2 linked regions of the Homo sapiens genome follow. The protein of the gene in region 1 interacts with the protein of each later gene in a pairwise test. Each region holds a gene or a part of one and is shown on either strand. Other genes may lie near its edges.

The links.
Region 2: the proteins of AP1AR (region 1) and KLC1 interact in binary tests that used the Homo sapiens proteins (3 or more experiments, as listed by UniProt).

What each region holds. Positions count from the first base shown.
Region 1 is NC_000004.12:112,233,395-112,243,931, forward strand, and holds part of AP1AR (AP-1 complex-associated regulatory protein), read left to right. Parts: intron 1-10,537. UniProt on the Homo sapiens protein: Necessary for adaptor protein complex 1 (AP-1)-dependent transport between the trans-Golgi network and endosomes. Regulates the membrane association of AP1G1/gamma1-adaptin, one of the subunits of the AP-1 adaptor complex.
Region 2 is NC_000014.9:103,630,972-103,641,508, forward strand, and holds part of KLC1 (kinesin light chain 1), read left to right. Parts: intron 1-10,537. UniProt on the Homo sapiens protein: Kinesin is a microtubule-associated force-producing protein that may play a role in organelle transport. The light chain may function in coupling of cargo to the heavy chain or in the modulation of its ATPase activity.

The sequences.
Region 1 (10,537 bases):
CTTGAGTGGGACATGACAGTTGTTTTATCTTGTCATCCAGGATCATCTGGTTTAAGTATTTATAATTTTTGTGTGTGAATGAAACTTACAAGGTCAAGCTGCTTAAGTAGGCTTGCCCAATAACTAGATGCCACACAATCTTTGGCTTTTACTATTATTTGTAGTTGTGTTACAGGGCGTTAAATTCTAACTCCAAGAAAGTTGGTTGGTGAGGGAGCAGTACTTACATTCTAAATGGATAAGCAAAAAACTTTATATTTGACTTTGGACTACATGATGTGTCTGTGGACTTTAGTTTTGTTTTTTTCATGGGGTCTCCGTAGAGTACGGCATTAAAATTGTAGGTTCTACTCCCTCAGCTCGTGAGCTTGGCAGCACAGGGAGGTGGCAGGAGGAAATCCATGAATCAGCGTGAGTGTTAATTGTCTGTAGATATGCCATAAAAACATAAGCAGGTGGAGTATTTCTTTCTTTTTTTTTGAGACGGAGTCTCGCTCTGTCGCCCAGGCTGGAGTGCAGTGGCGCGCGATCTCGGCTCACTGCAACCTTCGCCTCCCGGGTTCACGCCATTCTCCTGCCTCAGCCTCCTGAGTAGCTGGGACTGCAGGCGCCCGCCACCATGCCCGGCTAATTTTTTTGTATTTTTAGTAGAGACCGGGTTTCACCCTGTTAGCCAGAATGGTCTTGATCTCCTGACCTCATGATTCGCCAGCCTTGGCCTCCCAAAGTGCTGGGATTACAGGCATGAGCCACCGCGCCCGGCCAGCAGGTTGAGTATTTCTTATCTGAAATACTTGCTTTGGAGTTCAGATTTTTATTCAGATTTTGGAATATATGCATTATATACTGGTGTAGTATCTGAAAATCTGAAATCCAGAATTCTCCAATGAACATTTTCTTTGAGTAACATGTTGGCACTCAAAAAGTTTCAGATTTTGGAACATTTCAGATTTTGGGTTTTGGGGTTAGGTATACTCAACTTGTGGTTGGATTTTTACTGTTTGTGGGCAAAGCTCTTTGAACAAGTCCTGTGGAGGCAGTGAGAGTTTATAGGTTGTGGACACTGTCATCTAAAATTATATAATGGTGATATTGATCCTATTACTTTAAGTCTATAAACAGGATTTGACGGTTCCCTTACTTGAATTTTCTGATTAACTTATTGTTTAACATCAATTTTAATACTGTTTTAGCAGCTTCCAGTAAGCATGTAGAGACAGATGGATATAGTTACTTGTGCAATAAGGTTAAACTCTTATTTTAGTTTTTTTTTTTTTTTATCAGCTGTTTTGATTTTCTTTCAAGTATAGGTCTGGATAGTTAGTAGTTCTTCTAAAGGTGAAAAAGTTGAGGAGTAATCACAAAAACTTGATTTGATCCTATATGTCTTTGTAGTGACCACAAAAGAAGAGGGTGTCCTCAACTTTTTTAGCTTGATTTAAGCTAGACTTCACAGGGAAGCCTTATGATCTAAGGCCTGGTTTCTGAGTCTTGCAGATTGACATACCCCTGAGAAATCTGAAAATCAGATCACTCGTTTTTTACTATTTTAATCTCAAAACCAGAATTACCACTTTTTCCAGTTTATAAAATACTAGGGAATTCTAGTATTGTATATTCTAGGATATCTGTTTCACCAGTCAAAATATCAATATCAGTGTTGACGTATGTTGGAAACCCTACTACTAATGAAGTCATTTGGTGATTAAAGCAGAGAGAATTAAATATCTTTAAGGAATAAAACTTAGGCATCCTAATGAGTCATACTTCTTCACTGGAGTTTTGCCTGCCAACACTTTCTACAGGGCTCCATCTGCTGGTCAGTTCTCCTGTTTCTCTGAGCAGGCCTTTGTATAGACTTAGTTTTTTCTTTCTCAGATAGAAGACCCAATTAAGTTTTGTTGTGTTGTATTTAATTCCTATTTCTATATTACTGTATAATTCCACATAGTGATTCCACTTAAGATAAACTAGTTTTTATAGAAAGGTAAACCATATTTTGTATCCTCATCAATATGTAACATTTGTTGGCCTTTTTGGCTCCAGCAGCCAAGTTGCTTTCAGGCAATAGTTCACAGTGATTTGCTTTTCCATTCCTAGTAAAAATGATTTTAATAATAACTGACAACATTCCGTTACTTCCTATGTGCCAGGCACTGTTCTAAGTACTTTATATTATCTCACTTATTCCTCCCCGCAATCCTGTGAGGCAAGTAAGTATATATATTATATATATTATAGGTTGAAAACTGAAACTTAGAAAGTTGAACTTTCCCAAGATAGCAGAGCTGGGATTGCAACCCAGGTCCCTCTGAATTCAGAGTTCTTATCCTTAACCACCACAAATAGTTCATGGCACTTTATTCTATAGGTAAACATTTGGTTGCTATCTCTCTCATTGCAGTATCTTGAACGTTGTCACCAGAAGAACTTATGAATATACCTGAACAACTTGACTCTTTATTCTGTGTGCTAAGCTGTCTTTTTCTTGAAACTATGCGCTTGACTTCCACAATATCACCTTTATCTTATTTTCCTGTTTCTCTCCTAGCTATTCTTACTCTGTCTATTAAATGTGGAGATTTTCTTGTCTTCTCTTTTTTAATTTCCTTCATATGTGTATTACCTGCCCCTGAAGAAATTTTACCCATTCCTATGATTTCAACCACCACTACTTCCAAATCTCATCTTCTGCTTGTAGATCTTTTCAGTTGTCTACCTAAGAGGCACTCTTGGATATATTCAATTAAATCTCTATATATTATTTTCAGTCTCTCCTTAAACATACTGAACCTGTTTTCTTCCTGTCTTCTGCCATAAACATTGCCTTTCAAACTGCTTAGTCAGCAGCTTCCAGACTACTCTCTCTATTGTAGCTCTCATACTTCAGCCCACCCTCCCTTCCTATCATGAGTTAGGCTTTCTAAAACCCGCATTGGATTGTTTCTTTCCTTTGCTCAGCAACTTCCATCTGCTCCCTGATTCCCATAGCTAAATTTCTAAGTCTTTTTTTTTTTTTCCCCCAAAAAGGAGTCTCGCTCTCTTGCCCAGGCTGAAATGCACTGGCACAATCCTGGCTCACTACAACCTCCACCGCCTGAGTTCAAGTGATTGTCTTGCCTCAGCTCCGCAAGTAGCTGGGATTACAGGCACCCACCACCATGCCTGGCTAATTTTTGTATTTTTAATAGAGACAGGATTTCACCATGTTGGCCTGGCTAGTCTCGAATTCCTGACCTGAAACGATCTGCCCACCTCGGCTTCCCAAAGTGCTAGAATTACAGGCACGAGCCACTGCGCCCGGCCCTAAATTTAAAAGTCTTTTTTCCTTCTGTGACAGCATGATGAATTACATGGCATTCAAATGTATGGCATACTGTCCCTTTGTATACTCAGGATGATATTTAGTTCTATATTTGGGTTTCTATAATCTCTTTGTCAAAAAATGTCAGGATACAAATCAGTGAGAAAAACATTAAAAGAATAACATTAAAGCTATTCTAATTTCAAAAAACGTGTCATTCATAAATCTTAGCATTTTAACTTTTTGATAACTTACTATCCTCCCAACTACTAGTTTAAACTTTGGACAAAGCAATGTAACCTTAACCTGTTTTTACCAGTGTTATTCTCTCCCATCCTCTCTCTTACCACTTTTAATATCCTATATACCAGATGGACTGTGCTTGTTCTTGTTTTCCTAAAATACAGTGTTTTCTTTTTGTTTCCCCAAGACGGAATCTTGCCCTGTTGCCCAAGCTGGAGTGCAGTGGTGTGATCTTGCTCACTGCAACCTCCGCCTCCCAGGTTCAAGCAATTCTCCTGCCTCAGCATCCCGAGTAGCTGGGATTACAGGTGTGTGCCACCACACCTGGCTAATTTTTGTATTTTTTAGTAGAGACGGGGTTTCGCCATGTTGGCCAGGCTGGTCTCGAACTCCTGACCTCGTGATCCCCCCGTCTCGGCCTCCTAAAGTGATGGGATTACAGGCGTGAGCCACTGCGCCTGGCCAAATACAGTGTTTTCTAACCCTGTGCCTTTGTGGGTGATATTTATTTTCTTTTTTATTTTTATTTTTTTTGAGACGAGGTCTCACTCTGTCACCCAGGCTGGAGTGCAGTGGTGTGATCTAGGCTTATTAAAACCTCCACCTCCCAGGCTCAAGCAATTCTACCTCAGCCTCCCAAGTAGCTGGGACTACAGGCGCAGGCCACCACGCTTGGCTAATTTTTGTATTTTTTGTAGAGACACGCAGGGTTTCACCATGTTGCCCATGCTGGTCTCGAACTCCTGAACTCAAGTGATCTGCATACCTCAGCCTCCCAAAGTGTTGGAATTACAGTTGTGAGCCACTGCGCCTGGCCTCTGTGATATTCCTTCTTTTTTTAGTTTTTTTGTGAGCTTTCACTTACCTTTACCTTACCTTACTTACCTTCCCTATGAAACCCGCTCCAAGCCCCTGAAACCATATTATCTCCCTGAGGAAATAATATTTTCTACAGGCTTATTTTTGCTCTATATCAAGGGTTGGCAAACTTTTTCTGTAATGGGCCAGATAATATGTATTTTAGGGTTGGCAGGTGGTATGGTCTGTCACAACTACTGAACTTGCCTGTTTTAGTGCAAGAGCAGCCATAGACAGCATTTCAACAAATGAGTGTGGCTATATTTCAATGCAACTTTATTTACAAAAATAGGCAGAGGGCCAGATTTGGCCAGTGGGCCATAGTTGCCAACTCCTGGTACCATATGTACCATGATGTACGCTAAGAGCTCCTCAAGGAGGTCAAGGACTGTGTTTTATCACTCTCTCCATTCTCAGTATCTTACATTTGTTGAATGAACAGCCAGAAGAGTTATTTGAACTTGCAGGATCTACAAAACTACAATTTCTCCTATCCTTCATTTTTTTAAGGCCTAAAGATAATTCCCTAACTTTGGCAAAAACACCACATACCCAGATACTTAAACACATATCCTACCAGTTTTATATTGACTCACTATTTTTTTTAAAGAGATCATATTGAGTACCTTTGAGAATTTTAAAAATATTTATTATAATATATATTGCTAAAATATAGAAATCAATAGTGTCAGCATTAGAAGATTTATTTTGGTTCTGCATGTTTTTCAGTTTTGAAAAAATATAAAAGTGTAAGATGTTTCTCTTGGAATTTCAGAAGATAGGAAGGAAAACAGTAGTGCATTTAAATGGATATGGATTTTTTAAACATTCTTTGTTAAACCTTAAAGACTCCTAAGACTCTGTTCTGAATATCATTCCATTTTTCCCTAATACATTTTTAGTCTTTAATGTACTTTTCCTGGGTAATGGTACTTCACCTACTACTTATATGCTAATAAGTTCAGTCATCTCAGTCTGAGCTCTGAAATATCTAATTGCTACTGTGTAGTTCCACTTATCTGTCAAACATAACTGTAAATTAATTGTGTAAAGCTGAATTCATCTTTGTTTCCTTCTCATAGCCCTTTCCTCCTTTTTCCTCTTTAAGCCCCAGCCTTTTCTACTACTTCGTTCCCTACCTTGTGAGTGGTATCTGTAGTCACCTAAGCCATGAAACTAAGAACCATATCAAGTTCTTTCCTGTTACTCACCCTTTAAACCCAGGTTATCAAGTCCCTGCCTTCTGAGTGGCCCCTACATGTTAGATCTTTCTAACATCTATATCCTCTCTGCCTTAAAACAGACCCTTCTGTCCTCTATATTTGTAGTTCTACCCTCCTGATACGCCCTTTTGAACTTGTGTCTCCCTAATCTGAAAACCAAAAGGAAAGCAACATGAAACCTTATGTAGACTCCAACATCTCCCTCTAGCTGTTACCCTGACTACCATGTCTCCCTCCAGCTATTAACCCTATCTCCTATCTTTTCTCTTAAATATGTTTCTTAGGAATTGTCTCGTCTTGCCTAGTCTTGATGTCTTCTTGAGAAGTGTTTCCTCACTTCTCACTCAGTCTTCAAAGTAACCTAATGTTCACCTTTCCTGCTGCTGCTCTCCTCTGCATATTCATTTTCTTCTCAGTCATGACATTTTGGAGTCCTTCAAAACTTCTGTTAGACTCTTCTCACACTATACTCTCCTTAAAGAGTGACATGCATATAGCTGCTAACCTAGGGGTTGTCTTTGACACTGTTCCCCATCATCCCATGTTTCCAGTCCATCCTCAAGACCAGATGATGTCTTTTTTATCTCTTAAATAACTTTTCAGTCCACCCACTTCTCTCGCTGCTGCCACATTAATCCAGGCTGTCGTCATTTGTTGCCTAGATTTCCAATAATTCTGTGTGTATTCCTCGTTCACCATTCTCTGACACTACTTTGTTTTCCTTCATGGCGCTTACCACTCCATGACTTTGTAGACTCCGAGCATTTGTTTGTCTGTTGACTGTTCTCCCTTAATAGAGTATAAATTTCATGTGGTCAGAGACTTTGTTTGTTCCTGTATCTCCAGTGTACCAGCGGTGCTTGCCACATAGTAGGTGCTCAATAAATATTTGTCGACTGAGTGAATAGACTATCAAGTGGGTCTACCCACATATATTCCTGACCTTTTCCAATTTATCCTGCACCCTGGAATCGAAGTGATCTTAAATGCACATCTGATACTCTGGTTTCTCTTCAGAGTCAATAGATCTTTTGCCTTTTAAATGCAAATCTGTGACACAAATACAACATAAATTCTGAAGTGGCTTACCAAACTTGTAGGATAAAGACTGAAATCTTAATGGAGCTTTCAAGGCTCTGTGTTTATCTTTTCCTTGCCTACCTCTTCTTTCTCCTTTTATTTTTTTATTTTTGCTTCATGTGTGTCACACTTTTCCTTGAATCTATTTCTTTCCTTTTTACTTAGATGACTCCTATTCACTCATCTTGTAGATGCCAGCTTAAGAATTCTTTCCTACAGAAGTCTTCCAAAACCATCTCCTACCCTCCAGAGGGTAAGTCTGCACATCATCATGGAACCATCTGCTTTTCTTCTGTGCATGTTCTTAGTTTATAGTCATACTGATATAGTGTGATTATTTGGTTAATGCTTGTCTGCTGCTCTCAATAAAAAGGAAGGAGTTTATGCCTGTTTTTCCATACCACTGAATGAATACCCAGCTCTCAGTTAAGTGCCTAGTACATATTACATGTTCAGTAAATACTTGTTGGCAGAATTAATGAATACAGTATCTTGAATATGTCAGGTTCTTTTCACTCCCCCTTGCCTTTGGTACCTGCCGCTCCCTGAAACATCTCTTTTATCTGCTTGGAGGCCTGGCTCATTCCTCGGCCTCAGGCTGATTTTTGATGACACCTCATCTGAACATATCCCCTCTCACAGCATAGTAGTTGTTAATTTACCTGTGTGTCTACCCTGTTAGATTATAAGCCTTTTGGATACATGGGTTTAAAATATTTCAAATGTATAGCTATGCGTGTTACTGTATTACATAGCTATGCCTGGCTATGCCTGTCACTCAGTAACTTACAGAAATAAAAAATTGGAAGATTCAGTGGCATAGATACATAAGTGGCAACAGTTTCCAAAAGAAGAGGGTTGTCAGTGATTTCAGATGCTGCACACAAATTGCAGAGGACAAATAGCAAAGAACTAAAAGACCTCTAAGGTCCCTTCTCATTATTAGTTTCCTTTAAATCAGGCTCTTAAAAGGCAATAACTGTTTTTTAAACCCTTGCATTATGTCTTTGACATGTTTGGAGGGAAGAATTTGTCTCCTCTCTGCCAAGGCATAAAATTAAGTTTTTGAACATATTCTTCGTAAACGTGTCTTTATTAGGAAGAAGCTTATTAAACAGTAAATATGATTATTATTACTACCTGTATTAGTCAGGGTTCTCCAGAGAAATGGAACCAGTAGGAGATATCTGTATTTCTATGTTTACATGTAGGTAGATATATATAAACAGATATAAAATGAGAACTGTCATAAGGAATTGCCTCATATGATTATGGAGATTAAGTCCCACAATCTGTTATTTGCAAGCTGGAGACCCAGGAAAGCTGGTCGTGTAAGTCTCAGTTCATGGGCGGAAGACCAGTGTCTCAGCTCAAGCAGTCAAGTAGAGAGAATTCAATTCAACCTTCCTTCAGCTTTTTTGTTCTGGTCAGGCCCTGAATGGATTAAATGATGGCAACCCACCCACCTTGGAAAGGGCAATTTGCTTTACTCAGTCCACCAATTCAAATGCGAGTCTGTTCTCTAACACCCTTGCAGATGCACCAGATATAATGTTTAGCCAGATATCTGGGCATCTGGTGACCCACTCATGTTAACGTATAAAATTAACCGTCACATCACCTTATGTCACTGCTATCCCTACCTGGAAAAATGTGTTGATTTTATCCCTTAAGATTTGAGTGGTTAAATCTCTATTGAAATATTTGATACTAATTGGAAAACAATGTTTCCATCATCTTTGTAATACTTTTTGCCAGGCATTAGATTTATAATCTTTCCAGTCTTCTGAAAAAAAAAATAGCATTCTTGGGAAGCTTTTAATTTTTAATAGACTTTGGAACAATTTACCATGATTCTTCATCATTTATTTATAGTGTCAAGCAAAACATACAGGGAAAGACTTTCTTATTTTATTCTGACAGATATAAAGAGGAATATGAAGAAAAGGTACAATATCAATGTAGAATTTGTGATAATTTTTCAGTTACCTTTTACTTAAGTCACTTTGATATGAGTATTTGCCTGCTATGCAAAACAAAGTGAGAAGCATAAAATACTGCATTTTAAGCCTATTCTTAACAAGACTGGTTTTATCTTTAATAAAAGTATCTTGAAATCTACCTTGAGAACATCGATAAGTGAATATGTATGCAAGTATCTCCACTTTTGTACCACGTTAGTTTCAAATTCTTCCAAATTTCTGTATATGCCTCCATCGTTCAGAGTATTATTCTCCAGGAACCAGTCATAGCCTTTCTTTTCTACCCCTCTGATGTCCTTTATGTGTTTGAATCTGTCTTAGGCTGTGTCGACATAAAGGAATATCTGAGACTGGGTAATTTATAAAAGAAAAAAAAAGCTTACTTGGCTCACAATTTTGATGTCTGGAAAAGTTCAAGATTGGGCATCTGCATCTGGTAAGGTGCAGACTGCTTCCACTAGTGGCAAAAGGTGAAGGGAAGCCACTGTGTGCAGAAATCACACGGCAAAAGAGGAAGCAAGGAGGGAGTGCCAGGCTCTTTTTAACAACCTGCTTTCATGGGAACTCACTCATAACCATGAGGATGAGGTTGGTACCAAGCCATTCATGAGGGATCCACCACTGTTACCTAAACACTTCCTATTAGGCCCCACCCCTAACAATGGAGATCAAATTTCAACATGAGATTGTTAGGGGACAAACATCCAAGCTATAACACAATCCACTTTCACATCTTCAGTAGTAGTAGAGTGGATACGCAGAAGCCTACTTTACTTCATTTAGAGACAGCTCACAGGACCATAAGAATTACATGTAAATGAATGTCCATGGATGACTTGGAGGAACTCTAGACTGTTAAGAGGAAAAAGTACACTTCTATTTTCTTTAAATCATTGTTTTTGGAGCCTCTTTCAGCTCCTCAACTTTCACCCTAATTAACACACCTGAATATACATGTTCTTGAATAGAATAGTGGGTTGCTGCCCAAATTACTTATCGCCTTCCTTTTTCCTCCAGGGCATGTGACTGGATTCATGAACGTTAAATGCACATATTATGTGCCCGTAATCATTTTCTTCACAGCTCAACTTTATGTGATACTGCTCTATTGCTAGAGAATTCTTCCAGCTTCTCACATCACTTTGTCCTTTATCGTTTCACTGCTGGCATTTAAGTCTTATGTCTTGGATTTACCGCATTTATTTTTCTCTTGTACTTTCACTCTTGATACTGCTGCTTTCATATTACATCCCCATTGGGATTCTGACACTTCTCCCATCATCTCTTGTTTTCCAGTCCGTCTCCCAAACCAGATGATTTTTATCTTGTAAATATTTCTTTAATCCTTCCACTTCTCTCACTGACACCACCCTAGTCCATCTTATTCTTGCTTAGCCTCAAATTTGATTGCATACGTTATTCATACGTTCATTCTATACGTTTATCCCCGCTCACTGTTTAGGACTTGTATCATTCTTGGCACTTGCAGGAGCAGCTTCTTATATGAACCAAGGTTTACTTCTGGTTCAAGTCATTCATTTCTATTCCTGTGCAGTATTGTATTATATGAATAGGCCATAATTACTTCACCCTTCTGTTGATGGGCATTTAGATCATTTCCAACTTCTTTTTTTTTCTTTTTCTTTTACAAACTACCTCAATTTGTGCAAGGAGATAAATGTCTCTTTGTACACATGTGCAGAAGATTCTTTAGGTGGATATACCTAGGAGTAGAATTGCTCAGTCATAGCTTATGTACCTCTTCAAATTTACTAGAAAAATAAAACTTCTTCAGAGTAATTATACTACTTTAAACTTTTACCAATAATGAATTTTCATTGTTCCAT
Region 2 (10,537 bases), on another chromosome or scaffold:
GGACTCTGGACAGCGTTTATCTCCAGCAAGGGGGGAGGGAATGACACTGGGGAGAGGCACACAGTATCTTCAGTATTTCATAGCAAATAACTGCAGTCGTTTAAACTTACACATTTTTTTTTTTTTTGAGATGGAGTCTCGCTCTGTCGCCCGGGCTGGAGTGTAGTGGCGCGATCTCGGCTCACTGCAAGCTCCGCCTCCCGGGTTCACGCCATTCTCCTGCCTCAACCTACTGAGTAGCTGGGACCACAGGCGCCCGCCACCACGCCCGGTTAATTTTTTGTATTTTTAGTAGAGATGGGGTTTCAACATGTTAGCCAGGTTGGTCTTGATCTCCTGACCTCGTGATCCGCCCACCTCGGCCTCCCAAAGTGCTGGGATTACAGGCGTGAGCCACCGCACCTGGCCCAAATTTATACATTTTTAAAATTTATACATTCTTAGGCATGTTTCTCAATGTTGGAAAAAAGTCAATGTGTAACTTTCTGTATAGGGCCATAAATTATCTTAAAACATACTTGTATAAAAAGAAACCTAGGATAGAAAAATCAAAAGTTGAGTGAAATGTATGATTAGTATCACCTGAAAACATTCTTTGTAGATAAGTGGAATGTTAGAAACCAGTATTTTATTTTTATTTATTTAGAGATGAGTCTCACTGTGTGGCTCAGGCTAGAGTGCAGTGGTGTGATCCCCGCTCACTGCAACCTCCGCCTCCCAGGTTCCAGTGATTCTCCTGCCTCAGCCTCCCTAGTAGCTGGGATTACAGGTGCCCACTACCACACCAGGCTGATTTTTTGTATTTTTAGTAGAGACGGGGCTTCACCATGTTGGCCAGGCTGGTCTCAAACTGCTGACCTCAGGCGATCCACCCGCCTCAGCCTCCCAAAGTGCTAGGGTTACAGGTGTGAGCCATTGCACCTGGGCTGAAACCAGTATTTTATGTAGCAAAGAAATGATCAGTAATATACTCAAGACGAGAGTATTTGGGAAGATTTAAGTGTCAAATTTCAGGGCATAGAATAAAAGTGACAAGCACATTAAGATTGCAAATACTGGTCTTAAATGTCTGTTGGGAACCAACTGAATGGCAGGTACTGTGCTGAGTAGTCAGCGATACCTTGATAAAAGAGCCACTGTTGGCCGGGCGTGGTCATGCCTGTAATCTTAACTCTTTGGGAGGCTGAGGCTGCAGATCGCCCCTAGCTCTTTGGGAGGCCGAGGCAGGTGGATCACCTGAGGTCAGGAGTTTAAGACCAGCCTGGCCAACATGGTGAAACCCCGTCCCTACCAAAAATACAAAAATTAGCCAGGTGTGGTGGTGCACACCTGTAATTCCAGCTACTCATGAGGCTGAGGAAGGAGAATCGCTTGAACCGGGAAGTGGAGGTTGTAGTGAGCCGAGATCACGTCACTGCAGTCCAGCCAGACTCCGTCTCAAAACAAACAAAAAGAGCCGCTGTCAGCCGTGCAGTGGCTCACTCCTGTAATCCCAGCACTTTGGGAGGCCAAGATGGACCGATCACCTGAGGTCAGGAGTTTGAGACCCGCCTGGACAACATGGTGAAACCCTGTCTCTACTAAAAATACAAAAAAAACCAAAACCGGGTGTGGTGGCGGGTGCCTCTAATCGCAGCTACTCAGAAGGCTGAGGCTGGAGAATCGCTTGAACTGGGGAGGCAGAGGTTGCAGTGAGCCGAGATCACGCCATTGCACTCCAGCCTGGGCAACAAGAGCAAAACTCTGCCTCAAAAAAAATAAAACCAAAAAACAAAAAAACTCTGTCCTCTAGGAGCTCACAGGCTGGCATGGGCAGGTACCACAGACCAGGTTAAAGGCTGTGGAGTGCACTGAGGAGGCGATTCTTCACAAAAGAAAAGTACCAATCAGCCAGTGTCAGGGGGTCAGGGGTGGGATTGGGATTGGGGTTCCTGCTTGGAGGAAATAAATCCTGAGGTTGTGCTGCTGTAAAGGGGCATGTTGGGAAGGGGACATGGGAGTGAGTGTGGAAAGACGAGGTTAGGAAAGGCCTTGAATGACTTCTTAGAAGTCTGCTTTCATTCTGAGGTTTACAAAGGAGGGTTGGAAGATTTTTTTTTTTTTTGAGATGGAGTCTTGCTCTGTCACCCAGGCTGGAACGCAGTGGCACGACCTCTGCTCACTGCAGCCTCTACCTCCCAGGTTCAAGTGATTCTCCTGCCTCAGCCTCCCGAGTAGCTGGGACTACAGGTGCGTGCCACCACATCCGGCTAATTTTTTGTATTTTTAGTAGAGTCGGGGTTTCACCACGTTAGCCAGGATGGTCTCCATCTCCTGACCTCGTGATCCGCCCGCCTTGGCCTCTCAAAGTGCTGGGATTACAGGCGTGAGCCACCGCGCCTGGCCGGAGGGTTGGAAGATTCTGAGGAGCCAGTTGCCACTTTAGAAAGAGCATAGGCAGTGGTGGGGCAGGTGCTGTGAACTGGGATGAGGTTAATTAGGAAGCCATTAACCCCAACTCGGCAAGCCTCAGGATTAGGGCAGTGACAGAAGGAACAGAGAAGCTAGGTGGGGGCAGGGGCTGGGCTGTAAGGGTTATAGTGGAGCTGATTTGGGGCTGACTGGATTGGGGTAAATGAGGAGCTGCAGGGAGGACTCCCCAGAATGATCCTGTGAAAACCTGAGTCACTCCTCTGTTAAAGCTTTTGTCAGTGTCCTCTGAGCACCCCACCCTGTCTCTTTTCATCTTCCTGCTCTGGCCCTACTCAAGCACTTCCAGGTGCATCTGGAGTTCTGAACCAAACCCATTCTTGTAGTGATTAGCATTTCTTCACTTCCCCACATACTCCTTAGCCTCTGCCCTGATTTTTCTCCTTAGCACACCTCACTATCTTAAATGCTGTATTATTATTATTTTTTTTTTATTATTACTTTTTGAGACGGAGTCTCGCTCTGTCACCCAGGATGGAGTGCAGTGGCATGATCTCAGCTCACTGCATCCTCTGCCTCCCGGGTTCAAGCCATTCTCCTGCCTCAGCCTCCCAAGTAGTTGGGACTACAGGCATGTGCCACCACACCTAGCTAATTTTTGTATTTTTAGTAGAGACAGGATTTCACCATGTTGGCCAGGCTGGTCTCGAACTCTTGACCTTAAGTGATCCACCTGCCTCAGCCTCCCAAAGTGCTGGGATTACAGGCCTGAGCCACCGTGCCTGGCCAATACTGTATTATTTTAATCATTTTAAAATTTTTATTGTTTGTCTCCACTTAACATTCATAACCTCCACAAGGATGGGGAGTTTTGTCTCTTGTATTCAGTGTCGGTGCTTGGCGTGTAATAGGAACTTAGTAAATGTTTGTTGAAGGAATGCATCTAGAATGATCCTCATCTCTAATTTGGGTGATTCACTGGCTGGTGACACTCATCCAAGGAGGGAAAATGGGAGAAGGATGAGATTATGAGTTTGTTTTTGGACATGTTAAATCTGAAGTGCTTGTGGGGCAGCCAAGTGGACTAGTGGGCAGTTAGAGATACATCTTTGGAGCTCAAGACAGAGGCTGAGGCTGGAGGTAAAGATTCCAGAGACTGCATCATATCGTTGAGCCAGTCGGGTGTGATGTCCATCTGGTAGAGATGGGGAGTGGGTCTAAGAGGAGAGGGTCCTGGGAAACCAAGAGAAGAGGAGGGAGGAGATCAGTAGCAAATTGGCTAAGAAGTCAGTGATGGGTTGGACTGAGAAGTCTCTATGGATTTTGCTTCTAGGAGGTTACTAATGACCTTTAACTTTTTTTTTTTTAAATATAGTTTATGTAGAGACGGGGGTCTCACTGTGTTTCCCAGGCTGGTCTCGAATTCCTGGGCTCAAGCCATCTGCCTGCCGTGGCCTCCCAAAGTGTCGGGATTACAGGTTTGAGCCACTGCACCCGGCCTGTTGCCTGTTTCCTGAGAATATTACCTCTTAAGGATGGAGGCTATTTCGAGATGATCTTCATTCGTTCTCCCAAGGCATCCTTTGTGGCGTTGTACTCTGTAGCCTCCTAGTTAGTATACTCATGGATCAGAAATGAATTATGATTTTTTTTTAGTTTTAACTAATTTTTGGAGGCAGATGAAAGCAGTTTGCATATATGCTTTTTGAATTTGAAAAGTGCTATCTGAACTTAAAGCAACGGATATGGAGCAAACATGTTAAGCTGAGTTACGTGCATACGTGAACTGAGTTACTTCCTTGGTTCTAAAATATCTGTTACCTTCATTTAAACCATAGATTGTTCCCTGACTTCAGTTGCATAACATAAATTTATGTTCAGGCTTCTCTGAAGTTCACTATGCTGCTACTAAAACTGATCAGAGTGATGTTTGCACTGTTCCAGAGAAAATAGGTACTGTAAACCCTGCGGATGTCATATGTGTCTGTAGTTTCAGTTACTCCGAAGGCTGAGGTGGGAGAATCAGTTGAGCCCAGGAGTTCAAACTAGCTTGGGCAATATAGTGAGACCTTGTTTCTTAAAAAAATAAAAGGCTGTGCTTGGTGGCTAATGTCTGTAATCCCAGCACTTTGGGAGGCTGAGGAGGGCGGATCACCTGAGGTCAGGAGTTTGAGACCAGCCTGGCCAACATGGGTGAAACCTTGTCTCTACTAAAAATATAAAATTAGCCGCGTGTGGTAGTATGCTTCTGTAGTCCCGGGTATTTGGGAAGCTGAGGTAGGAGAATCACTTGAACCCGGGAGGCGGAGGTTGCAGTGAGCCAGATCGAGCCACGGCACTCCAGCCTGGGCGACAGAGTGAGACTCCCATCTCAAAAAGAAAAAAAAAAAGTAAAATAGGTACTGTTACTGAGATTCTACTGTTGAGGAATTTGAGGGTGAGAGAGGGGAAGTTTCAGAAACCAAAGTTACACAGCTGTGAAGTCAAGATTCTAACTCAGTTTTTTTGCTTCGCGGTATAAGCTTTGAATCACCTTGCAGTACTTAAAGCTGCAGCTTCAAGTGAATCATGATAATGCTGTTTAATCCTATCATTACTTTTTCTTGGGGAAACCTCGCGCCACTTCAATTTTTTTCAAAGATGTACCATTTTAACCATTTAAAAGTTCACAATTCAGTAGTGTTAAGGATATGCACATCGTTGTTCCACATTTCTGGAACTCTTTCATCTGGCAGCGCTGAGACTGTAGCCCCCAAATACTGATATCTCCTCCTCCCTCGCCCTCCCCCGGTAACCATCTTTTCTACTTTGTTTCTATGATTTTGACTACTTTCAATACTTTATTTTTTATTTTTTTTGAGATGGAGTTTCACTCTTGTTGCCCAGGCTGGAGTGCAGTGGCACGATCTCAGCTCACTGCAACCTCTGCCTCCCGAGTTCAAACAATTCTCCTGCTTTAATTTCCTGAGTATCTGGGATTACAGTCATGGGCCACCATGCCGGGCTAATTTTGTATTTTTAGTAGAGATGGGTTTCTCCATGTTGGTCAGGCTGGTCTTGAACTCCTGACCTCAGGTGATCACCCCCCATCGGCCTCCCAAAGTGTTGGGATTACAGGCGTGAGCCACCGTGCCTGGCCTTGCCTGTCTTTTTCATCTGAGCCATTCTAGCGGGGTATAGTGGCATCTTGTTAGTTTTAATGTGCATTTCACTGATGACTCATAATGGTGAGCGCTTACATGCTTGTCGGTCTTTGTATGCCTGGATTTGTAAAGTGTCTGTTCAAGACTTTTGCCCATTTAAAAAATTGGATTGTTTGTATTTTTAAGTTCCTTACATATTTATTTATTTATTTATTTTTGAGATGGAGTCTCCTCTGTTGCCCAGGCTTGAGTGCAGTGGCGCGATCTCGGCTCACTGCAAGCTCTGCCTCCCGGGTTCACGCCATTCCCCTGCCTCAGCCTCTGGAGTAGCTGGGACTACAGGCGCCTGCCACCACGCCCAGCTAATTTTTTTTTTTGTTGTATTTTTATTAGATATGGGTTTCACCATGTTAGCCAGGATGGTCTCGATCTCCTGACCTCGTGATCCGCCCGTCTTGGCCTCCCAAAGTGCTGGTATTAACAGGCGTGAGCCACCACGCCCAGCAGTTCCTTACATGTTTTTTTTTTTTCAGATGGAGTCTTGCTCTTGCTCTATTGCCCAGGCTGACGTATTTTTTATACAAGCCGTTTGCCAGATATATATGTGTCGCAAATATTTTTTCCTAATCTATGGCTTAACTTTATTTTTTGGTAGTGCCTTTTAATAAATCAATACTTTTAATTTTTCTTAACCATGCTCTGGCAAGTTTTATTAAAGAAATTTTCGGCTGGGCGCGGTGGCTCACACCTATAATCCCAGCACTTTCGGAGGCCGAGGCGGGTGGATCATGAAGTCAGGAGTTTGAGACTACCCTGGCCAGTATGGTGAAACCCCGTCTCTACTAAAATTACAAAAATTCGCCAGGCGTGGTGGTGTGCACCTGTAGTCCCAGCTACTTGGGAGGCTGAGGCAGAAGAATCGCTTGATCCCGGGAGGCAGAGGTTGCAGTGAGTCGAGATTGCGACACTGCATTCCAGCCTGGGCAACAGAGTGAGACTCTGTTTCAAAAAAAAAAAAGAAATTTTCGCAGGGTTTATTTTTATCTTTTATTTTTTGTTGTTGCCTAAGCAACATCCGCTTTCCTTAATTCTGAAAGCATATCTATAAATAAGTCACCCAAAGGCCAAATAGATGCATTTGTTTTGTCTGGTTGTTAATGTTTTCTTTTTAAAAAAATATTTATGTATTTATTTAATTTTTGAGACAGGATCTTGCTCTGTTGCCTAGGTTGGAGTGCAGTGTCACAGTCGTGGCTCAGTGCAGCCTCGTGTTCAAGTGATCGTCCCACCTCAGCCCCTGAAGTAGCTGGGACTACATGTGCGCACCACCATGACCGGCTTGTTTTTTGTAGAGACAGGGTTTCATGGCATTGCCCTGGCTAGTCTTTAACTTCTGGGCTCAAATGATCTGCTCTCCTTGGCCTCCCAAAGTGCTGGGATTACAGACGTAAGCCACTATGCTGGGCCACCAAGATACTATTTATTTCCCTGAATATGACGTGGACTGTTCCTGTAGGCTGGTCCCTTCACCTCAGGACCCTCTTTGCTGGTATTGTTTGGGGCTTCTGCGCCTGTATATGGGGATGGGACCTGACCCTGCTGATCTGGCCAGCACTGCCAGGGTTTCCTGTTGCCCATCTCTCGGTAAAACATCCCTTATAAACCTTTGCAAGGAAAAAACCTCTGTTTTCTTCCCTCCATCCCATTTTTCCTTAATGTGCTACCCTCGTCTGTATTCATAGGAACTTTATTTAACACTTGAGAACTGAGAGTAATTGACATTTCTTTCTTGGCTGTCCTTCATTCTGTGCACCCAGACCTATTGCTTTTTCTACCACATTCTTTTTCTCTTTTAGAAAATTGAAATGTAAGTCACATCACATCAAATGCCCCATTTTAAAGCGTGCAGTGCAGTGATTTTTAATGTATTCTCTGTTTTGTGCAACTACCATCTATCTAATTCCACACATTCCTTTTCCCTTTTTAGTGCTTGGTGTTTTTTTTTTTTCTTAACTTTCTTCATCACTGTAAGCTTTCCCCACCTGGCTGAATTTCACATGATAAAACCAGGGGAGGTAAAGTGACCAAAGATGATGCCCTTTGCTTCTCTGGCCTTTGCTTTCATTTCATTAATTTTTTTTTTTTTTTTTTTTTTTGAGTCAGAGTCTCGCTCTGTCACCCAGGCTGGAGTCTGGGTGTATATGTATGAACACAGTGGGGTGTGTGGGTGTGTGTGAACATAGTGGTGTGTATGTATGAACACAGTGGGGGTGTGTGTGCGTGAGCACAGTGGTGTGTGTATGTATGAACATAGGGGTGTGTGTGAGCACAGTGGTGCATATGTATGAACATAGGGTGTATGTGTGTGAGCACAAGGGTGTGTGTGTGTGTGTGCGTGCATGCAGAGTGGTAGGGTTCCTGAAGCAGAGGGACACTTGGGGCAAAGAGACCTTGGATTGTGTTCTTCTTGTTGGTAGAATAAGCTTAAATCACTTCATGTATCCCAGTTTCCTCAGCTGTAAATGGGAATTATAATGATAGGTCATCAAACTACCTGCAGACTTTTTTTGTTGTTATTTCGATAAAATATTACACATTTGAAAATGCTCCCAAAACTAACATATTGGACAGATGCGAATTCTTCTTTCCTTTTTTTTGAGATGGAGTCTTGCTCTGTTGTCCAGGCTGGAGTACAGTGGCATGATCTTGGCTCATTGCAGCCTCAGCCTCCCAAGTAGCTGGAACTACAGGCATGTGCCACCACGCCTAGCTAATTTTTATATTTTTAGTAGAGATGGGGTTTCACCATGTTGGCCAGGCTGGTCTTGAACTCCTGACCTCAAGTGATCCGCCTGCCTCAGCCTCCCAAAGTGTTGGGATTACAGGTGTGAGCCACCACGCCTGGCTCTTTCTTGTCTTTTACTTATTTATTTTTTTGTGACAGGGTTTCGCTGTGTCACCTAGGCTGGAGTATAGTGGTACAGCCAAAGCTTACTGTAGCCTTGAGCTCCCAGGCTCAAACAATCCTCCCACCTTAGCCTCCTGAGTAGCTGGGACCACAGGCGTGTGCCACCACACCCAACTAATTTTTATTTTTGTAGAGACAGGGTCTCACTGTATTCCCCAGGCTGGTCTTGAACTCCTGGGCTCAAGCAGTGCTCCTGTCTTGGCCTCCCAAAGTGCTGGGATTACTGGTATGAGCCACCACACCCGGCCCAGATGTGAATTCTTTATTTTTATTTTATTATTTTTGAGACAGGGTCTCAACTCTGTCACCCAGGCTAGAGCACAATGGTGCAATCATGTTTCACTGCAGCCTTGATTTCCTGGACTCCAGTGATACACCTCAGCCTCCTGAGTAGCTGGGACCACAGGTGCATGTCACCACACCCAGCTAATTTTGGTATTTTTTTTTAGGATGGGGTTTTGCCATGTTTCCCTGTCTGGCTTTGAAATCCTGAGCTCAAGAGATCCACCCGCCTTGGCCTCCCAAAGTGCTGGGATTACAGGCGTGAGCCACTGAGTCAGGCTGTGAATTCTTTCTTTTATTTTCTTTATTTTTGAGACAGAGTTTCGCTCTGTTGTGGAGTGCAGTGGCACGATCTTGGCTCACTGCAAACTCCACTTTCCAGGTTCATGCGATTCTACTGCCTCACCCTCCCGAGTAGCTGGGATTACAGGTGTGCACCACTATGCCTGGCTAATTTTGTATTTTTAATAGAGACAGGGTTTCACCATGTTGACCAGGCTGGTCTCGATCTCCTGACTTCAGGTGATCGACCCACCTTGGCCTCCCAAAATTCTGGGATTACAGGCATGAGCCACTGCCCCTGGCCTGTGAATTCTTTTTTTTTTGAGACAGAGTCTCGCGCTGTCGCCCAGGCTGGAGTGCAGTGGCGCGATCTCTGCTCACTGCAAGCGTCACCTCCCGGGTTCACGCCATTCTCCTGCCTCAGCCTCCTGAGTAGCTGGGACCACAGGCGCCCGCCACCACGCCTGGCTAATTTTTTGTATTTTTGGTAGAGATGGGGTTTCACCGTGTTAACCAGGATGGTCTCGATCTCCTGACCTTGTGATCTGCCCGCCTCGGCCTCCCAAAGTGCTGGGATTACAGGCGTGAGCCACCGCGCCCGGCCCTGTGAATTCTTAATATACATATTGTATGTATACTTTTTTGGTTTTGTTTTTATCAAGTTATATATGTATTTTGTATTTATGTGTAGATTTGAAAATAAACTTTTAATTTTAGAATAGTTACAGATTTACAGAAAAGTTGCAAAGATAGTACAGAGAGTTCCCACATACTTTGCATCCAATTTCCCCTAATGTTAATATCCTACATTACTGTGATACATTTGTGACAACCAAGGAACCAACATTGGTACCTTACTATTATTATTACTATTATTTTTTTTTTCTTTTGAGACAAAGTTTTGCTAGGTCACCCAGGCTGGAGTGCAGTGGCTCCATGGCTCACTGCAACCTCTGCCTTCTGGGTTCCAGCAATTCTCCTGCCTCAGCCTCCCTAGTAGCTGGAATTACAGGCATGCGCTACTATGCCTGGCTAATTTTTGTACTTTTAGTAGAGATGGGGTTTTGCCATGTTGGCCATGCTGGTCTCGAACTCCTGCCCTTAAGTGATCCACCTGCCTCGGCCTCCCAGTGTTGGGATCACAGGTGTGAGTCACTGTGCCCAGCCTGGTACATTATTATTAACTGAACTCCACTTTATTTGGTATCACTGGTTTTTCCCTTGTCCTTGTTGTACCTCAGGATCCCATCCAAGATACCATATCACATTTAGTCATCATGCCTCCTGCTCTGTGGCTGTTTTCTTAGACTTTCCTTGCATTAGAGGACTGTCTTAGCTTGCGAGGCTGTAACAAAGTACCACAGGCTAGTGACTCACGAACAACACAAGCCACAGTCCTGGAGGCTGGAAGTCTGGGATCAGGGTGCCAGCATGGTCAGATTCTGGTGCAGAC